Linked DNA regions of Homo sapiens. The protein of the gene in region 3 purifies or fractionates together with the protein of the main gene of each other region. This does not show direct contact. Each region holds a gene or a part of one and is shown on either strand. Other genes may lie near its edges.

Evidence for each region.
Region 1: the proteins of AKR1C2 (region 3) and KIFC1 purify together in Homo sapiens (co-immunoprecipitation; one large-scale study listed by IntAct). This does not show direct contact.
Region 2: the proteins of AKR1C2 (region 3) and TIGAR fractionate together in Homo sapiens (co-fractionation; one large-scale study listed by BioGRID). This does not show direct contact.
Region 4: the proteins of AKR1C2 (region 3) and ABAT fractionate together in Homo sapiens (co-fractionation; one large-scale study listed by BioGRID). This does not show direct contact.
Region 5: the proteins of AKR1C2 (region 3) and ZFP1 purify together in Homo sapiens (affinity purification with mass spectrometry; 3 studies listed by BioGRID and IntAct, with this or other methods). This does not show direct contact.
Region 6: the proteins of AKR1C2 (region 3) and UPF2 purify together in Homo sapiens (co-immunoprecipitation; one large-scale study listed by IntAct). This does not show direct contact.
Region 7: the proteins of AKR1C2 (region 3) and HOXB6 purify together in Homo sapiens (co-immunoprecipitation; one large-scale study listed by IntAct). This does not show direct contact.

The regions. Positions count from the first base shown.
Region 1 is NC_000006.12:33,390,551-33,394,622, reverse strand, and holds the start of KIFC1 (kinesin-like protein KIFC1), read right to left. Parts: upstream 2,801-4,072; 5' UTR 2,638-2,800; coding exon 2,626-2,637; intron 1-2,625. UniProt on the Homo sapiens protein: Minus end-directed microtubule-dependent motor required for bipolar spindle formation. May contribute to movement of early endocytic vesicles. Regulates cilium formation and structure.
Region 2 is NC_000012.12:4,324,213-4,327,712, forward strand, and holds part of TIGAR (fructose-2,6-bisphosphatase TIGAR), read left to right. Parts: intron 1-127; exon of another isoform or gene 128-627; intron 628-3,500.
Region 3 is NC_000010.11:4,997,358-5,000,857, reverse strand, and holds part of AKR1C2 (aldo-keto reductase family 1 member C2), read left to right. Parts: intron 1-191; coding exon 192-308; intron 309-397; coding exon of another isoform or gene 398-448; exon of another isoform or gene 449-947; intron 948-1,580; coding exon 1,581-1,658; intron 1,659-2,110; coding exon 2,111-2,233; intron 2,234-3,080; exon of another isoform or gene 3,081-3,500. UniProt on the Homo sapiens protein: Cytosolic aldo-keto reductase that catalyzes the NADH and NADPH-dependent reduction of ketosteroids to hydroxysteroids.
Region 4 is NC_000016.10:8,681,117-8,684,616, reverse strand, and holds part of ABAT (4-aminobutyrate aminotransferase, mitochondrial isoform 1 precursor), read right to left. Parts: intron 1,359-3,500; exon of another isoform or gene 1,066-1,358; intron 1-1,065. UniProt on the Homo sapiens protein: Catalyzes the conversion of gamma-aminobutyrate and L-beta-aminoisobutyrate to succinate semialdehyde and methylmalonate semialdehyde, respectively. Can also convert delta-aminovalerate and beta-alanine.
Region 5 is NC_000016.10:75,169,024-75,172,523, forward strand, and holds the end of ZFP1 (zinc finger protein 1 homolog), read left to right. Parts: intron 1-229; coding exon 230-1,311; 3' UTR 1,312-3,211; downstream 3,212-3,500. UniProt on the Homo sapiens protein: May be involved in transcriptional regulation.
Region 6 is NC_000010.11:11,920,810-11,924,309, forward strand, and holds part of UPF2 (regulator of nonsense transcripts 2), read right to left. Parts: intron 499-3,500; coding exon 489-498; 3' UTR 1-488. UniProt on the Homo sapiens protein: Involved in nonsense-mediated decay (NMD) of mRNAs containing premature stop codons by associating with the nuclear exon junction complex (EJC).
Region 7 is NC_000017.11:48,598,619-48,601,986, reverse strand, and holds part of HOXB6 (homeobox protein Hox-B6), read left to right. Parts: intron 1-323; exon of another isoform or gene 324-559; intron 560-1,441; exon of another isoform or gene 1,442-1,540; intron 1,541-3,368. UniProt on the Homo sapiens protein: Sequence-specific transcription factor which is part of a developmental regulatory system that provides cells with specific positional identities on the anterior-posterior axis.

The DNA.
Region 1 (4,072 bases), on a different chromosome or scaffold from region 3:
GTAATCCCAGCTACTCGGGAGATTGAGGTGGGAGGATTGCTTGAAGCTGGGAGGTAGAAGTTGCAGTGAGCTGAGATCACACCACTGCACTCCAGCCTGGGCAACAGAGTGAGAGACTCCGTATCAAAAAAAATCTCCATTTGGAAGTCTAATAACTGACCTCTTGATGTCCAACCCTGCTTTGAACTTGCTCCTTTTGCAGCTTTCTCCATCTCAATTGATATAACTCCATCTTTCAGTTGCTCAAGCCAAAAACCCAGAGTCCTCTCTTTCTCCTACATACCACATCTAATCTGTCAGCAAAGCATGGCTGATTGTACCTTCAAAATATATCCAGAATCCAATCACTTTTTACTGTTTCTTCCACTGCTATCACCCTGACCTAAGACACCATCATCTGGCACCTAGATTATCATAAACCAGTGGTTCTCAACTGGGGGTGATTTTATCCCCAAGGTGACATTTGACAATGTCCAATGCAGTCCTGTACACTGTCAGATGCCTAGCAGCATCCCTGCCCTCTACCCACTAGATGCCAGTAGCAACCCCCCACCTAGTCACGACAATAAAAAATGTTGGCCAGGTGCAGTGGCTCATGCCTGTAATCCGAGCACTTTGGGAGGCCGAGGTGGGAGGATCATGAGGTCAGGAAATTGAGACCATCCGGGCTAACGCGGTGAAACCCTGTCTATACTAAAAATACAAAAAATTAGCCGGGCGTGGTGGCAGGCGCCTGTAGTCCCAGCTACTCGGGAGGCTGAGGCAGGAGAATCGCCTGAACCCGGGAGGCGGAGGTTGCAGTGAGCCGAGACCGCGCCACTGCACTCCAGGCTGGCGACAGAGCGTGACTACTTCTCAAAAAAAAAAAAAAAAATGTTGCAGGGCACGGTGGCTCATGCCTGTAATCCCAGCACTCTCGGAGGCCGAGGCAGGCGAATTGCTTGAGCCCAGGAGTTAGTTCCAGACCAGCCTGGGCAACATGGCAAAACCCTGTCTCTATTAAAAATACAAAAAATCAGCCAGGCATGGTGGCAGCTGCCTGTAGTCCCAGCTACTCAGGAGGCTGAGGTGGGAGGATCACTTGAGCCCAGGAAGTTAAGGCTCCAGTGAGCCATGATCATGCCACTGCACTCCAGCCTGGGAACAGAGAAAGAGAACCTGTCTCAAAAAAAAAAAAAAAAAAAAAAAGGCAATGGTGCTATGGTTACGAAAATCTGGTGGACCCAACAAATCTTATCTCTCTGCTTAAAATCATCCAATGATTCCCCATCTCACTCAGAGTAAAAGTCCTCACAACGACCCCCACAAGGACAAACTGTGATCAGCAACCCCACTACCCATTACCTGACTTCCTTTCCCACAACTTTTCCCCTTGCTCACTTCATTCCAGCCACACTTCCCTCCTTACAACTCTTTAGGGACTCTGCTCTAGCAGATTCCCTCTGCCTGAAATGTTCTTCCCTCACTATCTGCTTGTCTGTCTCCCTCACTTCCTTCAAGTCTTTATTCAACTCATCTTTTCCATGGGGGTTACTGAGACCACCCTATTTAATACTCTAACCCGCCAGTTGGCCTCCCCTATGTCCTCAACCTTGAATTTCTCCTTTTCTCCACAGCACTTACGGCCTTCTGGCAGTTATATAATTCATTTATTACATTTATTGTCTGTATCCCCATAGAATGGCAGCTCCACGATGGCAACGATTTGTCCCTTGTTCACTGCTGCATCCTAAGTACCTACAACCACGCCTAGCATGTAGTAGGTGCTCAATAAATACTTGATTAATAGATCTGAGAAGGCTTTTACTACTTCTTACTGTCACATAATACTACTCTGCTCTCTGGTTGTCACGAGAGAAAGAATCTCTCTTAAGGCTGAATCCTAACTTCAGGGAAACCTGAACGTGAAATACTAGTAAACAAAGGATTCAGGCAGACCTTTCCTGGCACCAGAGATAAGTACACTCCAGCTGTCACACACATTCATCTCTCTTCACTGGAGACAGGAAGCTGCATATGGTTGTGGGGTGCAGCAGGGCACCATTTAAGAGAAAGAACTAAATCAATCAGTTTCATTGGGCAGGAATCTGCACAATTTGGGAAAGGAGAGAGAGAATGAGAAGTCTTTTGGCCCAGATTACCCTACTCTCCTTCTCCCTTTCCTACACTCCGAAGCAGCAGTGATAAGGAGAGGCGATTAACACAAAAGGACCTCAGCAAGGATGTGGCCTCAGACACCATGTCCCCAAAAGGAAGAAGTCATATCAGAACTCTCCCTTCTTACACACTGCAATCACACCCTGAGTAGGAATAAAGAAGTGGAAATGTGTCAGACGAGCCTGAGAATTCGAAATGAGAAATCTCGGAGACATGAAAGTTAAGGGAGGGGCTCCAGAAACTTGAAGCTAGGGGAGGGCAGACAGACGTGCCTTCCGACCTCCCCGGGTGCTCTAAGCCGTCTCCACTCCTGCCTCCGCCCCTTTCCACTTGTGCGGGGGCGCACGGACCTTCGCTCTCCCGGTAGACATGACAAAGGCCGACCGGGAGCCGGGGGCGCGACAGCATCGGAGCGGTCAGCCTTCGTCCCCATCCCCAGGGCAGGACACCTGCGCCGCCCCTACTCACCTGCGGATCCATGTCCACCTCGGTCCCACACGCGCCGGGGGAATGCAGTGGAAGAGAACTGGGTGCCGGGGATCCTGGGACTCGCGTTCTCTCGCCCGCTCGCGAAGCAGGGTAGAGAACTCGCACGGCTCCGGCCGCTACCAGCCCCGCGCCACACCCGCCACTTTTGAATTCCAACGGCCACCACCCACTCTCACCGCGCTCTGCACGCAGGGACCAATCGTCGCTGTCGCCACAGCCGAGGGCCAATCGCAGCGTTCTCCGCCACCCGAAGCCACACCCCGCCCGACAGGCGCCTTGTCTTTTCTGTTTCGCAGGCGCAGGAGAGGTAGGCGGATTAATTCCACTTCCGGTGCCACTTATGCTTCTCACCCCTCCCCTCCTCTAGCGGCAATAGTGCTGGACTTCCGCTCGGCTCCCCGCCGTCGCTCGCTACGTCAGAAAATGCGTGGACGTCGCCGCACGAACGCAACTGGCCAAGCGAAACTGGTGGCGGCCGGAGGAGAAGGGGCGGGGACGCTGGAGGAAAGAAATGACGCGTGCGCAAACGAGGACCCGTGCCGGGAGACAGGCGGGACTAGCGCCTCCTGGTGACTGCAGTAGGGAGCGCACTTGTTTTCCGTCGACGTGATTGAGGCTCCAGCGCTGCCTCTCCTGGTCGTGGTTGACTGGGCCCGGAAGTGGCTCCTGGAGCCCTCACGTGGATGTGAGTGGCCTGGTCTGTTCATTCCCTGGTAATGTTGCCATTTCTCACCAAATTTAGGAATTTTTGCGCTCCATTGAAGCCTGACAGTGGGGATTCAAAGCTCAGGAAAGAACTTTTCTTTATAGCCCTCTTCTCTCAGCCAGCCTACTTACCTGGGTGCTGTTACTGGTACTGGGCTCAGGGCCTTTGGAGTCTCGAGCTCGGGGAAGATTTACTGCTTCCATTTATGGAGTATTTTATGTTTTGCAGATTGTGCACCTGTATTATCTCGTCTTTTAATCACGAAAATTCACTGAGTTCCTACATTGTGCCACATTCTTTGTAGAGATGGATGGAGACAGGTTCAGAAAGATTACACAATAAGGTCACACTGCTGGTTAGGAATGGATCTAGATTCCATTAGCTTCAAAATCCAAGCTATTTCTGTTAACTCACGTTGCCTCTAACAGTCTCGGTGACAAGAGCAACCCCTTACGTGTGAATAGGGTGCTAGTTTGCAAAGTCGTTCTACCATATTTACTCATCCGAGTTTCCATCCAATCCTGGAGGTAGTCAGGACAGGGTTTTATTTATGAAACCGAAAGGCAGGGGCCTCAAGCATATGTTCGGGGATTTGGTGTGCAGTTGGAAATTGGCAGGTCTGACACCCGCGCTGCCGTCTTCTATCCATTGCTTTAACTTGGCTTCAAACAAGCTTGTAGAGAGAAGCAGATTGTGGGGAGACACACTGTCTGAAAACCA
Region 2 (3,500 bases), on a different chromosome or scaffold from region 3:
CGTGTAGGTTGGCATTACCATCACCTATCCAGCACTACTGAAGGGTCTGGTTCCTTGGAATGTTGTAGGTGTTTGCAGTGAGTCCCCGGCAAAACCATCCATTTAACTTCCTTTTTTTTTTTTTTTTTGGAAATATGTGTGCCTTTATTAGCTGAGCCACTACTTGAGGGGGATGAAGCGGGAGGAGTGGGTGGCCCCGATGCCGGGCCGGCAGTGCTTCACCAGCTTATAGGTGATGGAGAACTCGCCCAGGTAGTGACTGATCATCTCCGGCTTGATCTCCACCTGGTTGAAGGTCTTGCCGTTGTAGACGCCCACCATGCTGCCCACCATCTTGGGCAGGATGATCATGTCCCGCAGGTGCGTCTTCACCACTTCCGGCTTCTCCATGGGCGGTGCCTCCTTCTTGGCCTTGCGCAGGCGCTTCAGCAGCGAGTTCTGTTTCCGCCGCAGGCCCGGGTTCACTTGCGGCCGCTGGCACGCACTGTACAGCTGCGTCAGCTGCTCGCAGGACACGTCCCGTCCCGCAGCTGGTCCAAGTCTGTGCCGCGGTAGGTGAGTTTGCGGAAGGTCCGCTTCTTCTGCTCTACCTCGGCCATCTTGTCGGATCCTCAGAAAAGTTCACTTCCATTTTTAGGCAGCTCGTAAAGCTTTAAAATTTTTTGGCAAACTAAATTTAATATACTTTTAATGATTTAAAAATGAATTAGTAAAGTTTTTTTGTTTTTGCTTTTTTTTTTTTTTGACGAAACGGAGTTTCACTCTTGTCACCCAGGTTGGAGTGCAATGGCATGATCTCCGCTCGCCACAACCTCCGCCTCCCGGGTTCAAGCGATTCTCCTGCTTCAGCCTCCGGAGTAGCTGGGATTACAGGCATGTGCCACCATGCCTGGCTACTTTTGTACTTTTAGTAGAGATGGGGTTTCTCCATTTTGGTCAGGCTGGTCTCGAACTCCCGACCTCTGGTGATCCGCCTGCCTCGGCCTCCCAAAGTGTTGGGATTACAGGCGTGAGCCACCCCACCTGGCCGAATTAGTAAAGTTACTGATAGCAAAACTGATTTTTCTTACTGTACTTTTATTGGCAGTTACTTTTTGTGTAATGCTAATAATTGTTCTGTATATTAATAAAGCAAGCAAAATACTATTAGCTCATCTGTAATTTAGTATTTTTATAAAGCTAATACTTTTATAAAATTTTAATGCTCTATAAAAGTATAAAGATACCTTGTACAGATACTTTATAAAGATCAAAGACAGCCGAAAGTCCTGCAATCCCAGCACTTTGGGAGGCCGAGGCGGGTGGATCACCTGAGGCCGGGAGTTCAAGACCAGCCTGGTCAACATGGTGAAACCCCGTCTCTACTAAAAATACAAAAAATTAGCTGGGCGTAGTGGCACTCGCCTGTAATCCCAGCTACTCGGGAGGCTGAGGCAGGAGAATCTCTTGAACCCGGGAGGTAGAGGTTGCAGTGAGCCCAGATTGCGCCGTTGCACTCCAGCCTGGGCAACAAGAGTAAAACTCGTCTCAAAAAAAAAAAAAAAAAAGAAAGACCACCAAAAGTCTTGTGTTACTAGCTCTTGAAATCTTCTATATTTGCAAATGAATGTATTAGTGTAAAGGAATTAGGACTAAGCTGTATTCGTGATATCAGGTGAGGGTTTACATTTTCATTTACACTAAAGAACAGCTTTCCCATGATTTGTTCCTCCTTTGTAGCACGCTGAGTATTGTGTGTTGAATTTGAATTCCTTAAATGGAATTAAGGGAAATTGAGGTTTCTGTATGATTTTTGAAGAAATGCTGCAGCGTATAAATCCAGGCTAACAAGATATAATGTCTTTTAAGAACTGTGAGATAACCTACAAAATGAATGATGTATATTTGTAGGGCCTATAAATGGCTGATCCTAAGACTTAACATCTTGGCAGAAGCACTCGGATTCCTGCAGAGTCAGGTTTCTGTTTTGGAAATGGACCACACTGCAGATTTTGAAAATGAGTGGTGTTATTCCTGACTCCTTCAAAATATATCCCTCTGACCTTTCAGCTCCGTTCACCTTCTCTGCTGCTATCACAAGTCAGACTTGGTTAAGGGAAATAGATTAATAGTAAAACTGTTTTAGCCATCAAGTTTCCTTTCCCATTCCCCAAACGTACTAATTAAACAGTTACTTCAAGGATTTATATAAACCTCTTAATAAAGCTGATAAAAGCTGTACAACTAAATATTTATGAAAGCTTTTGGAAAAAAATCTATTTTTGGATTCCTACTCTTTAATATTTATAAAGTGATTTGAACGCAAAAATGCCAAATAGAACTAAACTGAATGCTGTGATTGTTAATAATACTATTGAGTCTACAGCAGCCTCTGTTGATATATGGCTAAATGAGTCCTTCATTATATCACAGTGGTTATGCTGCTTTCACTGAAAATCGTTAGATGGTGGGGCAGTACTTTTATGAAACTATCAAATTTCTGGGATTCCATTTTTTATAAAATGACATTTTGACAGTGTAAACCTTTATTTTAATTTGAATCTTTCATTATCTACTTTGATTAAATAAAAATGCTGAGTTACTCTTCAGCAAGTATACAAAAAGTAATCATCTCTGCCAAATTTCTGTGATTTGTAAATTCTGAGTTTTTTTGGTGGCTCTTGCATGATTTCTTGGTTGGCAAATTATTAAATTTCTTCTCACCCCTCATTTCAAAATGAGGGTGCTTCTTTGGCTTTGGCTGGAAATTGTGTTAGCAACCTATAAAAAGAAAAACTTTAGACAAATTAGACTTAGTTTATTTGAGCAAAGAAATGAATCATAAATCAGGCAGCACCTGAACCAGTAAAGCTTCAGAGTGCTCACCCAGTGACATAGGCAGGCAGTATTTATAGACAGAGAAAGGAAGTGACATGGCCAGGCGCAGTAGCTCGCACCTATAATCCCAGCACTTTGGGAGGCCGAGGCAGGAGGATCACCTTAGGTCAGGAGTTAGAGACCAGCCTGGCCAACATGGTGAAACCATGTCTCTACTAAACATACAAAAATTAGCTGAGCGTGGTGGCGCTTGCCTGTAATCCCAGCTATTTGAGAGGCTGAAGCAGGAGAATCGCTTGAATCCTGGAGTTGGAGATTGCAGTGAGCCGAGATCACACCACTGCACTCCAGCCTGGGCTGCAGAGTGAGACCCCATCTCAGAAAAAAAAAAAAAAAAAGAAAGAAAGGATGTGACATATAGAGATAGCCTGATTGGATACAGCTCTGCTTTGCCTTATTAGGACATGTCTGAGCAGTTTGCAGCCCATAATTGGCTGAAAGCTCAGCTGCCATGCATGGTTGGCTGAGACTTGGTTTTTATTACAGGAATATACTCTCAAATTATGTTGTAGTTTGTGTGCATATTAAGTTAGGTGACAGCTCCCTAGGCATGGAGGCAGTTTTAGGCCAGGTTTAAATTAAGGGCTACAAGCCACTGTCTAGCGAGGATGTTACTTGTTTTG
Region 3 (3,500 bases):
CTATATATCCAACATATTATAAAGTTCATCATGATATGGCAGAACAAAAGGCATCACAAGAAGAGAGAGAATAATTTTGCCTGTGGTCATTAGTTTTGAAGTAGTAGAAAATGTCTAAATATTAGGTGGAGCAAACTAGTAAAACTGGCTCAAGTTTTCATTACACAACTTCGTTTCTCTAACCTCTGCAGCTTTGGAGCAATTCCCATCGACCAGAGTTGGTCCGACCAGCCTTGGAAAGGTCACTGAAAAATCTTCAATTGGACTATGTTGACCTCTATCTTATTCATTTTCCAGTGTCTGTAAAGGTAGGCAGCTTGTGTGATCAAATTAATTTCACTTTTGTTCTCAGCATAAATATTGTTTTCATGGAGATTTGAACTAAGCTTTTTCTTAGGAGGACATAGGGATTTTAACATGGAAGAAGAGCCCTAAACATAACTCCTAATTCCTTTCTATGGAACAGAAAGCAATTTTGAATCCATACTTCCGTGATTGCATGTCTACAAGAAAAGAGAGTGCAGAATCCTCAAAGCCTCTGCCTCAAAAACTTGAGGAAATGACAATCATCTCCTTGAAGGCACAAGGTCTTATTTATGATTCCTGATTTCACCTCTTGGGATGTTCACAGACACAGAGTTTCATGAAGCTGTGGTGTCCAGAAAACCTGCTGCACATAGGGTGCACAATGAGTTTCCATCTTCTTGCCTCTTTTCAAGGGGCAAGAACTCAGTCCGGGAATGTCTTAAACTACAAACCTTCATGGGAAACCTTGTTGCTTCTGCTTCCTCTCTTTTCACACTGGAGGTTTTATTTTTGCTTAGCCATGAATTCTTGTGTCATTCATAACTTTTGTCTTAAGGTACTGAAAACTAGTCAGGCTAGTTAATGCAAAAGGGTATATTAGATATGATAATGGGAAATCAAAGCCAGGGCTACATTAAGAATTTGATAAAAACTCTAAAAATATATCCTTTCTCCACCCTTATCTCTGCTTTATTACAAAAGGCTTTTTAAATATTTGTTCCAACCTTTTTCGTTGGTGGCATTTATGGCTTTGGAGCACTGTCAGGCCCATGTTCATTACCGTGAGCTCCTGTGCATCTCCTAATTTCCAAACTAGCCTGGAAAACGCCTCCATTGACCATGATTGGTTCATGGTCCTGTGCATGGAACATCATATGTTCAGGGAGATAAAGAACTCTGATAGTGGCACCTGGGTAAAAAGTACAATCCATTATATCTGGATATCAAGATCTTTTGCAGTTGAAGAGAGGTATTGCCACAGAGAAAATTATAGGAGCAGAAGAAAGTCAATGAAAGTCAATGATGACACTCCATTAGGAACCAGAAAGATGGTATTTATTTATACATATAATAGGTGTAAGAGATTAGAGGAAGCCTGTCACCTGAAGACATTCCTTATACCTTCATATGTAGTACACTTTGTACATACCACTCTCTGGAGCGCTGCATCACCTACCTCATGGAGGATTAGTGTCCTTAAATGTACCTCAGAGCATGGCTATGTGTGGAGAAATTGACTTGTGACATCACTAAACTGACTGCTTCTACTTCAGCCAGGTGAGGAAGTGATCCCAAAAGATGAAAATGGAAAAATACTATTTGACACAGTGGATCTCTGTGCCACATGGGAGGTGAGTGTTTGGAGGTGAGAGAACGGATAAGAAAGATGAGGTAGGATACATCTGTTTCCTATCTTCTTAGTACAAGTATGGAAAATGCACCATTGGATCAAAAACTTAGGAACTTTACAAAGGTAGTTTTTGTGAGCAGCGAGGAAAAAGAAATGACAGGCATACAAAAGAGAGAAGTGGAGGAGAAGAATTGGGGGTAAGGAGGACTGGGATTTCTTTCCTTGCCTGTACATTAATCTCTCCACTTTCCTAAGGAGGAAACAGAAATTCTCACTCTTGCAATCACTATCTTCTTCCCCAATTTTTCTGTTTTATTTTCTCCCTTTTAAGAACCACGGCTAGCTAGTTTGATTGTCACGTCTAGACAGTTGTTGCTTTCACAGTTCTATGTTACATTTATCTTGCTCTTCAGTCGACTACACAAATGATACCTCACAATTCCTTTTTCCCAGGCCATGGAGAAGTGTAAAGATGCAGGATTGGCCAAGTCCATCGGGGTGTCCAACTTCAACCACAGGCTGCTGGAGATGATCCTCAACAAGCCAGGGCTCAAGTACAAGCCTGTCTGCAACCAGGTGAGCGCCCTCAGCCTCCTCTCCTTTCTGTTCTTCATGCCCCTCTTTCTGTCCTATTGCCAAGTATCCATTCATTTAGTCCCACTTATCTTTGTAAAAGAGAAGATTCTAGAGAACAAAGCCTCTTCCTAGAAGGGCATGGAGTCCTCTTACTTGTACCCTGCTTAGAAAAGTCTTACGAAAAGGTGTTGTAACTTTGATGCTGAATTGTGTGTTACATTTATAGGAGGTCAATTCGATCAAGAAGTCCAAGGATTGCCAATTAGACTCAGGGAAAGGTGGACTTACCCCTAAGCTACGAAAGATGACCAGAGAGTGGACGGGTGAAGGTGATTTGGAGGGAACTGTGCATAGATATGAAGCCATGAAGAGATGGAATGAACAGTACATAAGGAGAGAGTGAGAGCAAGAGAAGAGAAATACTAGGGATTCACATGGGCTTCGGATGTCTCAGTGTCTCTTGATATCTCTGCTTTCACACTTCTTGACCAAGGGCATAGATACACTAAAAATTATCTGCAGACAGTGAAGGTCATCCATGGTAGAAAGAGAAAATGACCTGTTTATGGAGATATCTGTTCACAGTGGATGAAATCCACACTGAGGAAGGTTCAGCAGAACATGGAGCTGACCTATGACTGCCCCGCTCCTAGTCGGCTGCTTTTTGGAGTCTGTCATGCAATCAGCTGCTTAAACACATCTATTCTATGCATGGTTCTTTCATAGCCTAGAGATAATTCCATCTTTTCCTTGAGTCCTGACTGGTGATTCCAGGCCTCCTTGATCAAATTGACTGCCCCCAAATGTTACACACATTTCAGCATTAAAATCACTACACCTTTCCCAGTAACTTACATTTTTTGTTATAATTTTGTTATAATTTGGTATAATGATATGGTGCTGTGATAATTTAATAAAAGCATTGAGAAATTAATGTGGTTTTAATACTAGTAGTTCCCCAATTTTTTAATATGGCCATTTTCACACTTTCCAAAAATTTGATAAAAATAATACTGGAGACCCATGTTACCATTTATATTCAAAATTACTAACATTTTGCAATGTTATATGGAGTATATCTGCATAAATACATATAATGTTTCTAGAACCTCTTCAAGGTAAATTGTAAAGATGACAATTGACCCCTAGAGACCTCTCAAAGCATGTCACAGGAATGAAGATATTCTCCCAGTTCCAGTGTCATTACTGTATCTAAGAACATCATTTATAGTGCCCTTATGTCATTTGGTATCCGGTCCATATTTTA
Region 4 (3,500 bases), on a different chromosome or scaffold from region 3:
CTCCTGAGTAGCTGGGACTACAGGTGCACATTACCACACCTGGCTAATTTTTAAAATTTTTTGTAGAGAAGGGGTCTTGAGGGGTCTTGCTATGTTGCCCAGGCTGGTCTCAAACTCCTGGGCTCAAGTAATCTTCCTGCCTCAGCTTCCTGAGTAGTTGGGACTACAAGCATGCATCACCATGCCCGGCTAATTTTAGTATTTTTTGTAGAGGCGGGGTTTGGCCATGTTGGCCAGGCTGGTCTTGAACTCCTGGGTTCAAGTGATCCACCCACCTCGGCCTCTCAAAGCGCTGGGATTGCAGGTGCGAGCCACCATACGCTGTCTATCCTTCCTTTTTCCCCTGCGATTTTCTTGGAACGGCTTCCTATGAACTCTCTGGGCCTGTTCATGATGCTCTCCCTGCACAGAGTCTCTTTCTCTTCTTTTCTGCCTTTTCCTCCTGAAATTTCTTCCCTAGAATCCCCAGGAACAGGGAGTGGTAACCTCTTTTTACTTTGAGCTTGAACCTGTATTCACTCCCACACACCTTCGGCACTCTCCTCACTGTGTGGTCCTTGTTTTGGGGCCTGTTTCCGCATGGCTAGTCTAGAAGAGGCGCTGGTGTAGTAGCTGAGTCTTTGTCTCTCCCTCCATCTCTCTCTCTCTCTCTGTCTCTCTCACACACACAGACACATAGACACGCACACACCCCTACTACTGTACACAGCACATGGAAATCATGCAATAAATGAACACACTCATTGACGAATGAATGCCAGATGGCTACGTCTGTCCACTCCAGATAAGCCATCAAAAGGGAGGCCTGGCTTTTCTTGTTCAATACTATAGATACCAGACAACCATGCCTGGAGTCTAGTAAGTACTCAATAAACACTGGTTGGATGAACAAAAGAATACAACTTAAGTTCTTGTTCTTGCATCACTTTCAAGTCATCTCCCCTTTCTCCAGTTTCAGAGGACAGACCTAAGTAGCTTCAGAATGCTCCCCCTACACCCCATATTTTCAGTATCATAGCAGCATTTCAGTTCTTTTCTCTCTCTCTCTCTCTCTTTTTTTTTTTTAGAAACAGGGTTCCACTATGTTGCCCAGGCTGGAGTGCAGTAGCTATTTACAGGCATAATTCCACTACCGATCAGCACAGGAGTTTTGACCTGCTCTGTTTCTGACCTGGGCTGGTTCACCCCTTCTTAGGCAAGCTGGTGGTCCTCCACTCCCAGGAGGTCACCATATTGATGCCGAACTAATGCAGACACCTGACTGGTATAGTACAGTACGGCCCAGAACTCCTGGGTTCAAGCAATCCTCTTGCCTCAGCCTCCCGAGTAGCTGGGACTACAGGCATGTGCCGCCCTGCTCAGTGGATACAGCATTTCAATCCTCTTGATCCCATTCCCTTTAAGGAGTGGAGAGTGATCTCCACTCTGCTTTCATGGTCATCGTGTGACCTTGGGCAAGGCACTGCTCCTCTGGGCTTCTGGTTTCCCACGGGTAAAGCGAGGCCAGTGTAGACATTTCAAGAGATAACGTCAGGCAAAGGTACAAATGGCCAGTAATGCCTGAAAGATGCTTCAGCTCAGGCACCAATTACATGGTAACAGATGCTGTCAATGTAACTTATCAGCAAAGCTATCCCTAGCTTAGCTCTGAGTGTGGGGTTTACAGATCTGTCTAAAATACGCTTCTCAAACTTAAAAGTGCACACAAATCACCCCAGGGGATATTGTTAAAACGCAGATTCACATTCTGTAGTTCTGGGTGGGGCCCAAGATTCTGCATTTCTAGCTAGCTCCTAGAAGATGCAATGCTGCTGGCCGCTGGACCACACTTTCAGTAGTAAGGTACTAGAATACAGTGGGTCCCACCTTTGAAGGAATTCTCAGTGCAGCCCAGGGACAGAGTGCTGGCAAGTTGCTGATATCCAAGATAATAGATGTTAGCACCTAAATGGGAGATGCTGGCAGTGAAGATTACGGGACCTCTGGACAAGGACAAGGTTGGCAGGGGTCGGGGGCTGGTCCAGGATTCCTAGAGAACATGGAAATAGAGTTGGGAGCATTCTGGCCGCCGGTGATTCTACTAAATCATAATTCTGGTGGGCAGGGGCATCAATCTGTGTTTTAACAAGCTCTTGAGGGGATTCTGATGCTAAAGTTTGAAAAACACTGTGCTAGACAGAGATAAAGGGGCAGGCTACTCTGGTTGGAAGAATAGCGTTCTGTTTTCCCACAGTGGAATTTGTAAATTGGATTCATTTATTCATCCATTCATTCACACATGTATCCATCAATCTAGCCAACCAACAAAGGGGTTGTGTCTGTCCATCCATGCATCCATCTACACCCCCAGCCATCCAACATCCAACAAATACATCCTGAATGCCTCCTCTGTGTGTGTGTGTGTGTGTGTGTGTGTGTGTGTGTGTGTGTATCCTGTTAGGCACAAGCAATCTGATTGAAATTATAGATATACACGGCTGTCTTAGCCTCTAACCGGTGATTCTCAACCAGGGGCAATCTTGTTCCCCAGGGGACACTTCATAATGCCTGGAGACATTTCTGGCTGTCACAACGTGGAGGAAGGTATGTTGCCAGCGTCTGGTGGGTGGAGGCCAAGAATGCTGCTAAACATCCGGCACAGGACAGCCTCGCTTCCACGTCAGTAGTATAGAGGTGGGCCAGGAGAGGTGGCTCAGCCTGTAATCCCAGCACTTTGGGAGGCCGAGGCGGGTGGATCACCTGAGGTCACAAGTTCAAGACCAGCCTGGCCAACATGGTGAAACCCTGTCTCCACTAAAAATACAAAAATTAGCTGAGTGTGGTGGCGGGTGCCTGTAATCCCAGCTACTCAGGATGCTGAGGCAGGAGAATCGCTTGAACCCGGGAGGCAGAAGTTGCAGTGAGCTGAGATTGCACCACTGCACCCCAGCCTGGGCAACAGAGCAAGACTCCATCTCAAAAAAAAAAAAAAAAAAGATAGCAGTCATTGGATTAGGGGCCACTCTAATGCAGAAAGACCTCATTTCAACCTAACTATTTCTGCAAAGTCTCTATTTCCAAATTAGGTCCTATTCATAGGTTCCAGGTAAACATGATCATGCCACTGCACTCCAGCCTGGGCAACAGAGCAAGACTCCCTCTCAAAAAAAAAAAAAAAAGTGTAGAGGCTGAGAAACTTTGCAGTAGACTGTGAGTTCCTGATAGGCAGGAACTGGTGGTATTCCCAGGATCACAAGATAGTGTGTGACCTACAGGAGCTGAGCAAATATTTAAGTGGATGAAGAAATAGTGACACAAAGAAACATTTATTTATATAAAGAACTCTGGGCCAGGCGAGGCAGTTCACACTTGTAATCCCAGCACTTTGGGAGGCCGAGGTGGGAGAATCGCTTGATCCTAGGAGTTCAAAACCAGCCTGGGCTACATAGGGAGACTCCATCTCAACAACAACAAAAAAATGCTTTTTAAAAAATTAGCCAGGTGTGGTGGCACCTGTTGTG
Region 5 (3,500 bases), on a different chromosome or scaffold from region 3:
CTACTTGTATTGATTTTGGTTTTGTTTTGTTTTTTTAACCACAAGCTATTACCTTTCTCTTTCAAAGTTTGAAAGGAAACATTTGCACTGGGAATTTTTTAATATTGGGAGACTGGGTCCCAAACTAAAGAGTCAGCCCTGTGATAGAACACGTGTGAAGACTTCCCATTCGGTAACATTATAGCGGAGGCATTGACAAGGTTCTTTTCATTGTGCTCTCTATTCCTAGAAGTGTGGAAGGCTGATGACCAGATGGAGAGAGACCACAGAAACCCAGACGAGCAGGCGAGGCAATTTTTAATTCTTAAGAACCAAACCCCAATTGAGGAAAGAGGCGATCTCTTTGGAAAAGCACTTAATCTGAACACAGACTTTGTTTCTTTAAGACAAGTACCTTATAAATATGACTTATATGAAAAAACTTTGAAATATAATTCAGACTTGCTTAATAGTAATAGAAGCTATGCAGGAAAGCAGACTGATGAGTGTAATGAATTTGGAAAAGCACTTCTCTACCTGAAGCAAGAGAAAACCCACAGTGGAGTAGAATATTCTGAATACAATAAAAGTGGAAAAGCCCTCAGCCATAAAGCAGCCATTTTTAAACATCAGAAAATAAAAAACTTGGTTCAACCTTTCATTTGTACTTACTGTGACAAGGCTTTCTCCTTTAAGTCACTCCTCATTAGTCATAAGAGAATACATACTGGAGAAAAGCCATATGAATGCAATGTATGTAAGAAAACCTTCTCCCATAAGGCCAACCTCATCAAACATCAGAGAATTCACACTGGGGAGAAACCTTTCGAGTGTCCGGAATGTGGAAAAGCTTTCACCCACCAGTCAAACCTCATTGTACACCAGAGAGCACATATGGAGAAGAAGCCCTATGAGTGCAGTGAATGTGGAAAGACATTTGCCCAAAAGTTTGAACTCACCACACACCAGAGAATTCATACAGGAGAGCGACCCTATGAGTGTAACGAATGTGCAAAAACCTTCTTTAAGAAGTCAAACCTTATCATACATCAGAAGATTCACACGGGGGAGAAACGCTATGAGTGCAGTGAATGTGGAAAATCCTTTATCCAGAACTCACAGCTCATCATACACATGAGAACTCATACAGGAGAGAAACCCTATGAATGTACTGAGTGCGGCAAAACTTTCAGCCAGAGGTCAACTCTTAGATTACACTTGCGAATCCACACAGGAGAGAAACCATATGAGTGTTCCGAATGTGGGAAGGCCTTTAGCAGGAAGTCCCGACTCAGTGTCCATCAGAGAGTTCACATCGGGGAGAAACCCTGAAACTCCAGCCAGGTCTTACTGTGGAAAACTCCTGCCAGAACTCTTCAAGCGGGTGAAAAACCTCATGACAGTATTGAGGGAACATGGGAATTCATACTGAGATGCAATCTCTCAACTCAAAAATGTATTAAAAATAGGATCCCATGAGAACATTATACTGGAAGTTACATGTGATACCCAGCTAAAGAATACATATCAGAATATATCCAGTTGTAAATAGCCATACCCAGTTGTACTACAATGAGCTTTTTAAAATCTTGAATGAATTGAGTATTCTAGACAGCAGCATAAGAAATATACAAACAGTATCCTATGAATTTAGTGGTTTTATGTGGATATGCCACAAAACACAAGTGGTATGCTTTAGATCTGCACATGTGAATTTAGCATAATCACTGGGAATTTGAAATTCTTGTCCTCTGTGATAATTAGGACATAACAAGATTTTCCATACTAAACATCACATGTGTTTTTCAGTATCTCTGCAATCCAGTATGCATTCCAAATGAAATGTGTAACATTTAAAGTAGCATGGAACCTACGTCTTTCCCTACTGCTTGCTGGCATATATCAGTTGGTATGAACATTGTTCTTGAGCTGCCTCTTAGGAAACAGAAGACAGTGTTGAAGTTTTCCCTGCTTCTGGTTTGCTGAAGATTTTCTAGAAGCACTATTTACACAAATATGCAAATGTGAAATAACCGATCTATAACGTGAAGGAGGCAGACATGAGCTGTACTACTCAGTATGCACCACAGAATAAGAGTTTGCCGTGTAAAGACAATATCCCCATTCGTCATGCTCTTATTTTCCCGTGGGATATTTGCATACAAATGCATGTCTGTTACCAAAATATTGTGTAACACAGACAGAAACCACCTGTTTTTGTCTTTCCTTGTTTCCCTTAATATTTCATGAATTGTCTAGCAAAAATGGTAGGATGCTTCTGTAGTTCACAAATGTTACATTTCAGAGACTTTAGAGGAAAAATTATTTTAAATAACTGTCAACTGTTTCATTGCTTTTTAAATTTTTCACGTGCATAACCCCCTTTAGAAGTAAATTTTTACACTATTTTGTTGTTTAAAGGAGGCATTTCTACTTCCTTGAGTTTTGCTGTTGCCAACCTAAAACATTTCCCTTTGGAACATGAGTTATAAGTTATTACTTTTCCTTTACATGTTTACACTTTTATAAAAATCAGATTTTTCAGTGGTCTCTCCAGATATTAACAAGAATTGTTGTGTAACTCAAAGATTTGCTTTTATAGACTTGATTTCAAATTCTTAAGTTCAGCCTTTCCCTATCAATCACAAATCATGTATTGGAAATTATAAATGGCAACCAAAAACTGGCTTTTAAAAAATATTTTTGGATATCATTGATGTGCTGTCACACTATATATTGAGTGACTTTCTGAACAAATTTATCCAGAACATCCATAGCCCAATAAGCTTTTGTCTAAGTTGTCATCTTACTTACTCACAAAGGAGGGGAAAACGTTATTTTCATAGCTGCTTTTAGAAATGTAAATTGTAACAGCCTCCTTGGACAACATTGTGAGTCTGTTTTAACATTAATATACTCTTACAACCTAGGAATCTCCTGGGAATCTATCCCTAAGGAATAAAAAGCGCCAGCACTTAAGATTATATGTTTACTAATGTATATTGTATTTTTTGGTAAGGACCAAAAAAACAAACAAAAAAAAGACCATCAGTAAGGGAATGGATGAATAAATTGTGGTAAAAACATACCATGGCTGAATGGTATTTCCTTGAAAAGAATGTGTGGGAACAAACTCCAAACTTCTCTAGGTCAAATGAGGAAAGCAAGAGGGGAGAGAGAGAGTGTATGTGTGTGTGTAGCAGTTTTTATAAAATAAAGATAAACCCTTATATATGTGTGTCTTTGTATATGATTTTATGGGCCTGGTGAATAGAATTCCTTCCATTTTTAACCTGTGGACCTCACCAGCTTTATCAGTGAGGGCTTTAGCAGTAAACTGAATTAGCGCCTTATGAAAGGATGACTTGGAGAATGAGAGAAGGATTAAGGGAACAAACAACGGATGGTAAGGAATCCAGAGACCAGCAGTGCCAAGAAGCTGTTGTCTCCCTAGGGACCAAAGGAAGAAATGGTGTTTCAGAGCCCAGTGAGAGCCAAAATGTTGGAAGGTCTCTTTCCTG
Region 6 (3,500 bases), 6.9 Mb from region 3:
TTGCTCTATACTTTTCTACTGTAGTCCTGGAGCCCCCAAATGTATCTTCTTCCAACGTGGGATGTTCAATTCAGAGACACTGAAACTCAAATCAAGTTTAAAGCTCAAGTTCATTTCCCCCACACCATTACCATCACAACCCGTTTCTTCTCTGGCTCAATCATCTCCTTCACGCTCTCCTTGGTGTAACTGCTCAGTAGTCAAGTGAACCATCTCATTTCTTGACTGCCATTCTCAAGAGAAGATTAACCCTCGCGAGATTTCCATTACAAAAGGCCTTTTCCGCCTTGTCTGGAAGCGTCGGCTTGTTCCGGTGTTGGCAGAGGCTGGTGTTTCTGCCTCCTGGCCCCAGCCTGTCCCAGGTTTAGATTCGCAACTCTCTAGACCGACCTGCTGAGATGTGTCCACTGCTCTCATTCAATTGCTGGAGGACTCCACTAACCACAACATCAGATACAGGACCTAATGAAATGACACGTGCTGCTGGATCAACGTCTCCTAAAGGAACAAACAGGGTCACATCAGAGAGCTTACTGCCACAGGACAAAGTCCAGCAAGATGGCGTCTGCAACGCTACCCACCACCACCAAGTCACTCCCCCAAGTTACAGGTGGCCCTGGCATCTGCGGGTTCCACATCCATGGACCAAAAATATTCGGGGGAAAAAAACCCAAACAATAAAAAATAACATAAATATTAAAAACAATACAGTATATCAACTATCTCCATAGCATCTACACTTTATTAGGTATTACAAGTAATGTAGAGATGATGTAAAGTACACGGGAGGATGTGCATATGTTATACATAAATGCTACACCATTTTTTACCAGGGACTTGAATGTCTGTGCATTTTGGTGTCTGAGGGGATCCAGGAAGCAACCCCCTGTGGATACCGAGGACAACTGTAGTGCTTTTTTGAGAGCATTCATGCTCTCTACTGAGCTACAACTTAACCAGAGCCATTGGAGCAATGGCTGGAGGAGTGGCTCTGTTCTCTTCTACAACTTATTCTTAAGGTGCTAAGAATTCACAGTTTGTGTTATGGTTCAGTTGTGTATCCCCAAAATTCACATGTTAACACTGAACTGCAGGACCTCAGAATGTGACCGTATTTGGAAACAAGGTTGCTGTAGACGTAATTACTTCAGATAAGGCCATACTGGAGCAGGGTGGAGCCCTAATCCCATATGACTGCATCTCTATAAAAAGGGAAATTTGCACACAGACACACACAGGGGGAAAAGGCCACGTGAAGACAAAGGCGGAGACCAGGGTGAGGTATGACAAGGTATGGAAGCCAAAGACTGCCGGCACCCCCAGCAGTAGAAGGCAGGCCTGGAGCAGTCTTCCTCCAGGCCTCAGAAGGAACCAGCCCCGCTGACTCCCTGACCTCAGGTTTCCTGCCGGCGGCCTCCAGTGCTGCGAGACAACAGACATCTGTCGTTTAAGCTACTAGGGCTGTAATATTTTGTCATGGCAGCCCAAGCAGATGAACAGTTTGTTTCTTACAGAGCAAGCTACCTTAGCAAGAAACTTTCAAAGCGTTAAGATGCAAATATGGAAAAGTATATCCTCAGCTGGATAAGATCCGTAACTCTTCCAGAAATGAACTGATGGAAAGAACACAAGTATTCCCTGAGGGAATGAAAGAGAAGATTCAAGCATCTCTCCTGAAGTCAAGAAAAGGCAGCTATCTAACCTAGAATACTTTAAATAAATGCAGTAAATGACAGGAAAAAAATGTTCAAAATCTTTGCTAAGTAAGGTATAGTTATATCACTAGTTATAGTGTAAGGTGTCATTTGACTGGTTTATAAGCAAACAATCATTCTGAGTGACTCAAAAATCTATCAGCTCAAAAACTGTTTATTAATACAATATACACTTTGGATTAAATGCAATTCTACAATGGACTCTATTGTATAACAAAACTATCACTAATTTAACCTTACATAAAGATATATAAAAAAAAAATCTGATGAAAAAATGCAGACTCTACTTAAGATAGGTTTACAAGAGTTCAATATCAGCCTGGGCAACATAGTGAGACCTCGACTCCACTAAAAATAAAAAAAATTAGCCATTTGTAGTGGTGTGTGCCTATAGTCCCAGATACTGAGAGGCTGAGGCAGGACTGCTTGAGCCCAGGAGGTCGAGGCTGCGGTGACCTGTGATCACGCCACTGTACTCCAGCCTGGGTGACAGAGCAAGAACCTGTCTCAAAAACAAAATAAAACAACAACAAAATCATTTTTAAAAAGATGGGTTTAAAAGTCAGATAGTATACTCCTATGCCGCTAAGTGTAGGCCACACACCAGCAGTTTTGACATCACTGGAGATCTTGTTTAAAAGTAACCAGAGCTTGTTGTGCTCACTTCAGCAGCACATATACTAAAAATTGTAGTGATACAGAGAAGACTAGCATGGCCCTGTGCAAGGATGACATGCAGGTGGGGTGCAGTGGCTCACGCCTGTACCCTCAGCACTTTGGGAGGCTAACGCAGGCAGATCACTTGAGGTCAGGAGTTTTGGAGACCAGCCTGGCCAACATGGTGAGACCTCATCTCTACTAAAAATACAAAAATTTGGCTGGGCGCGGTGGCTCATGCCTGTAATCCCAGCACTTTGGGAGGCCGAGGAGGGTGGATCATGAGGTCAGGAGTTCAAGACCAGCCTGGCCAAGATGGTGAAACCCCGTCTCTACTAGAAATACAAAAATTAGCCAGGTGTGGTGGCAGGTGCCTGTAATCCCAGCTACTCGGGAGGCTGAGGCAGAGAATTGCTTGAACCCGGGAGGCGGAGGTTGCAGTGAGCAGAGATCACGCCACTGCACTCCGATATAGCGAGACCCCATCTCAAAAAAAAAAAAAAAAAAATTAGCTGGGCGTGGTGGCACATGCCTGTAATCACAGCTACTTGGGAGGCTGAGGCACAAGAATTGCTTGAACTCGGGAGGCAGAGGTTGCAGTGAGCCGAGATCCCGGCACTGCACTCCAGCCTGGGCAACAGAACAAGACTCCATCTCAAAAAACAACAAAAAAGAATGACACACAAATTCGTGAAGCTTTCCACAATAATTAAAAAATAATAATAAAAGAAACTAATCAGAACTTGCTTTTTAGTAAGAGTCTAGAGAGTTAATACGTATTTTAAAGTTTGAGAAGCATTGAAATAACCCATATGAATTAGTACCATCTAAGCCATGTAAGTATTAACACTTGCCAAAAATGTTAAGTTTCACAGATTTTCAATACTAGTGTATTAGAAAAACAACCTTGTTCTGCAATACAGAAAACCCTACATAATAGTTTTACTTACAGCACTGCTGCCGTTTCAACTCATTGTAAGCAAATGCCTCTTATTTGTTAAAGGGCTGAAATTTTAATTTATGTCCTTATTTCAAGGATCTCCTGGTTAGAAAATATACAAATACAAATTAAAATCTGGGAGTCCATCAAAAGCTACAGGAGAAAAATAGTTTATGCCGGGCGTGGTG
Region 7 (3,368 bases), on a different chromosome or scaffold from region 3:
CCTCCACACCGGCTTAACTCGACCTCCTTCCCAAGAGGGGGTGGCCAGGGCTAGGCTATGCGCCTCTGCTGCAGCGTTTGAATATTGGCCCCTGTCTCACGGGTTACTGATTAGCTTGGGCTTTCAAGCCGTAGGAGGAAGCTCTGGCAGTTCCTTTAAAGGTGCTGTGGTCCCCGTTCCTGGGTGGGGGTGGGGTTCCAGGAAATTGCCTGCGGTGCCAGGCAAACCAAGGTGTTGCCAGAGTCTGGCCGAGGGCTAGAGGAGCTGACGAGGTTAAGGGGCCTGGTGGTGCTGGGGACAAACACTGTGGCTGCAGCCCTCACCCTCTTTCGGCGCCTCTGGAGCAGCTCTTTATAGCTTTCCTGCGGCGAGGTGACTTTCTGGTGGCTATAAGGCCCGACTCAAGGAGCTGCTCTATAGGAGGCCCTGAGGGAGCCAGCCCTAGAAGGTCCTTGGCCCCTCTGAGATTTTGCTTTTGGGCAATCCAAAGGACATGTAGAGAAGTCAAGCTGGTACATGGTATTGAAACACTTCAGGGCCCTCAGGTTGTCCCCTGGACCTGCGGGTAGGAAACCGGGAGAGTGGGTTCAGCACTACTGCTCACTCCCCTAAAGATCAAAGAGGATGCCGCTCCTTTGCATAATGAAAATGAAGTCTTTGTACTTTGATTTGGAGGGGCCGATTTTAGGGCAAAGTGTCTCATCTAAACAGCCTCCCTCAACCTATGGGAGTGATCACTCAGTACCCCTGGGAACATTTATTTATGTTCCCCAAACCCAGAGAAACAGAGTCCAGGACGAGAATTGAGTTGAAATATTTTCATCCCACCCCACCCCAGCCAAAGTTGGGGGTGGTGGGAGAAGGTGCTCATCACCTCAAAGAGCTGAGGGAGAGGGCTTTATAGCTTAGAGGAAATTGGAAGCCTGGACAATGTCTCAGCACCCTCCCACACACACCACACCACACCACACACACACACACACACACACACACACGCAAATATCCCTCCTGAGGTTACCTATCAAGAATTTTACTCCCGAACTGAACACAACTTAGGAAACATTTTCCTGGGAGCTGGAATGTGTTAGCTTGCCCACAGGACTGCAGACTCACAGCATAGAAAATTACAATTATAAATCCTGCCTGTGGGGTATCTGTACAATCCCTCTGTTATGTACTCAAGAATTGGTACACACTTCTATCCATCTCTCTGAACACACACTTCCTCATTGAGGCAGGGAGAGACACCCCAGACTGGCGGATGGCTGAGCCCGCTGTGTATTTACATATTCCCCCAAGGAGACAGACAGAGGGCGGTGGACCGAACCACAGACAGATTCGTAGGGATCTGGCTCCAGAAAGGAGTCGGTCTCTGGCCTGCCCTGCCCGCCTGCTCTTTTTCCCAAACAAACGGATCAGACGAATAAACGCTCATAAATACCTCTGGGCTTAGATAAGAGCGATGAGGCGCTATTTTCTTTCATGCCCGACTCCAGGCGCCCAGGCCCGCCTGTAGTGGCTCCATCTCCAGACAAGCAACCTGCAGAGGTGAGGTTAATTTGGGGGCTGTGACTCTAAAGATAAGGCAATTATTTCCCTGCTTCTGACACAGGGAAATGCTCCCTTCCTCACCAGATCTTATTTTGTTCAGACTTCACTGAGAAAACCACACTATTTAGTGCTAGGATGGAGACATTGTGGGCAGGGAGGAGGCAGGGAAGGCTGAGGCCCAGGGCTCAGCCTCAGCAGTAGGCAGGGAGGTGCATGCAGGTACTCTCTCCCACTTTTCTCCCCCTGTTCAAATGGCCCCTAGTCCTCTCTAGAAGCAAGCCCAGCCATACCTAGATATGGAATATTTATCCTTCTTCATTATCAGGGGGTTTAAATTTGTTTTCTTAAATGCTTATCAAACACTCCCACAGAGTCAGGTTAGGAAGTAATTGGAGGCCATCTAGGGATGGCTATTTTGCCATTAAGGTACAGCCAAGAAGTTGCCCTGAGTTTAGAGAGCCTTGGAGACCACGTTGCAACCAAATAAGTTCCCACCCTTGGTGATCCAAGCTCAGTCCCCTGCCACCTTCCCTAGTGTCTTGTACCATCTTCAGTGGGCAGAACTTGGCCAGAAAAAGGAGCCCAAAGGAAGGACAAGGCAGAGGAGGGTCAGCCTGGCCTGACATCTGACTTTGTTCCATGCCCTGGCCCCTTCTTGTCCCCAGGTGTGAAGGTTGTCACCCTTCACTACTTGGCCTGTGTATGTATATTAGAATGTTGGGAATGCACTGTGGCCCTGTCTCCCAGCCTGGGCTCAATGCTTATTTTCCTTGGATGAAAGAGCCAGAGACATACATTCTCTGACACACCTAAATTTGTAAGGCGGCAAAGCTGATGATACAAACACGGGGTGTGGGAGGGAATTGTAGCGATGCTGAGATACAGACAGAAGGGAGAGGGGATGCTGGCTGATGGCTGGAAGCAGCCTGCTGAGTCCCCAAGAGAACGCAAACGACCTTCTCTCCCTATCAAACTAAAGCAAAAACCAAGTCTTGGGAAAGAATTAATTTTAAAAAGAACTGGCAGCTCCTACAGAGACTTAGAAGAGGAGTGAGGATGCATTTCTTCCCAGTGGTCTCTGACTGCCTCAACTATCAGGAGGGTTCAAAGCCCACAACTGGAAGAAGAATGATTTCTTCCTTGTGCCCAGATTTACTGGGACATCCCTGATTCCTGAAAATCCTATAGCCCAGGCTATTCTTAAGTCTTTTGGGATTGTAGAGGGTACTGGAGTGAGGGTTGCAGGCAGGATAGGGATCAGACAAATAAAGCCACCTAGGCTGAGGGATACCCCTCACTCCTTCACTCCATATCACCAAGTGAGGAGAGGGCTAGTCCCTTTCCCCAGTGCCCCTTCCCCTGCCAAGGGTGAGCAGCTGCATACTAGAACCAGGCAGAATGTTTTGGGCAGCCACCCTCGTCGCCGCCTTCCAAGAAGCTCCTAGTCTAGCCACAGAGTCAGAAGGGGAAGCTTGGGCTCAGTCCCTCCTGCCAGCTCCTCCTCTTCTGGGTCTTCTAGGCAGTGGGATCTGGCCTGCCCCCTCAGACCAGAAGGGTTGTGGAGAAGCAGGAACAATAAGCCGAGGCTTGGAGGAGACAGAGCAGATCTGATAAACAGGAAAAACGATGTTCAAAACCTGGGGAGGAGGGTGTTTCTTCTTTGCTTATCTTAGCGGAGAACTCTTCTCACCTTCTACCGACACAAAACCCTAGAAACAAACCTTCTTTAGTTCTCTCTCAAGGCGATTCGGAGACATTTACCCAACCCTCCCCGGAGAGAAGGGGTCGAAGCAACGCAGGGGTTAACTTTTCTGAAA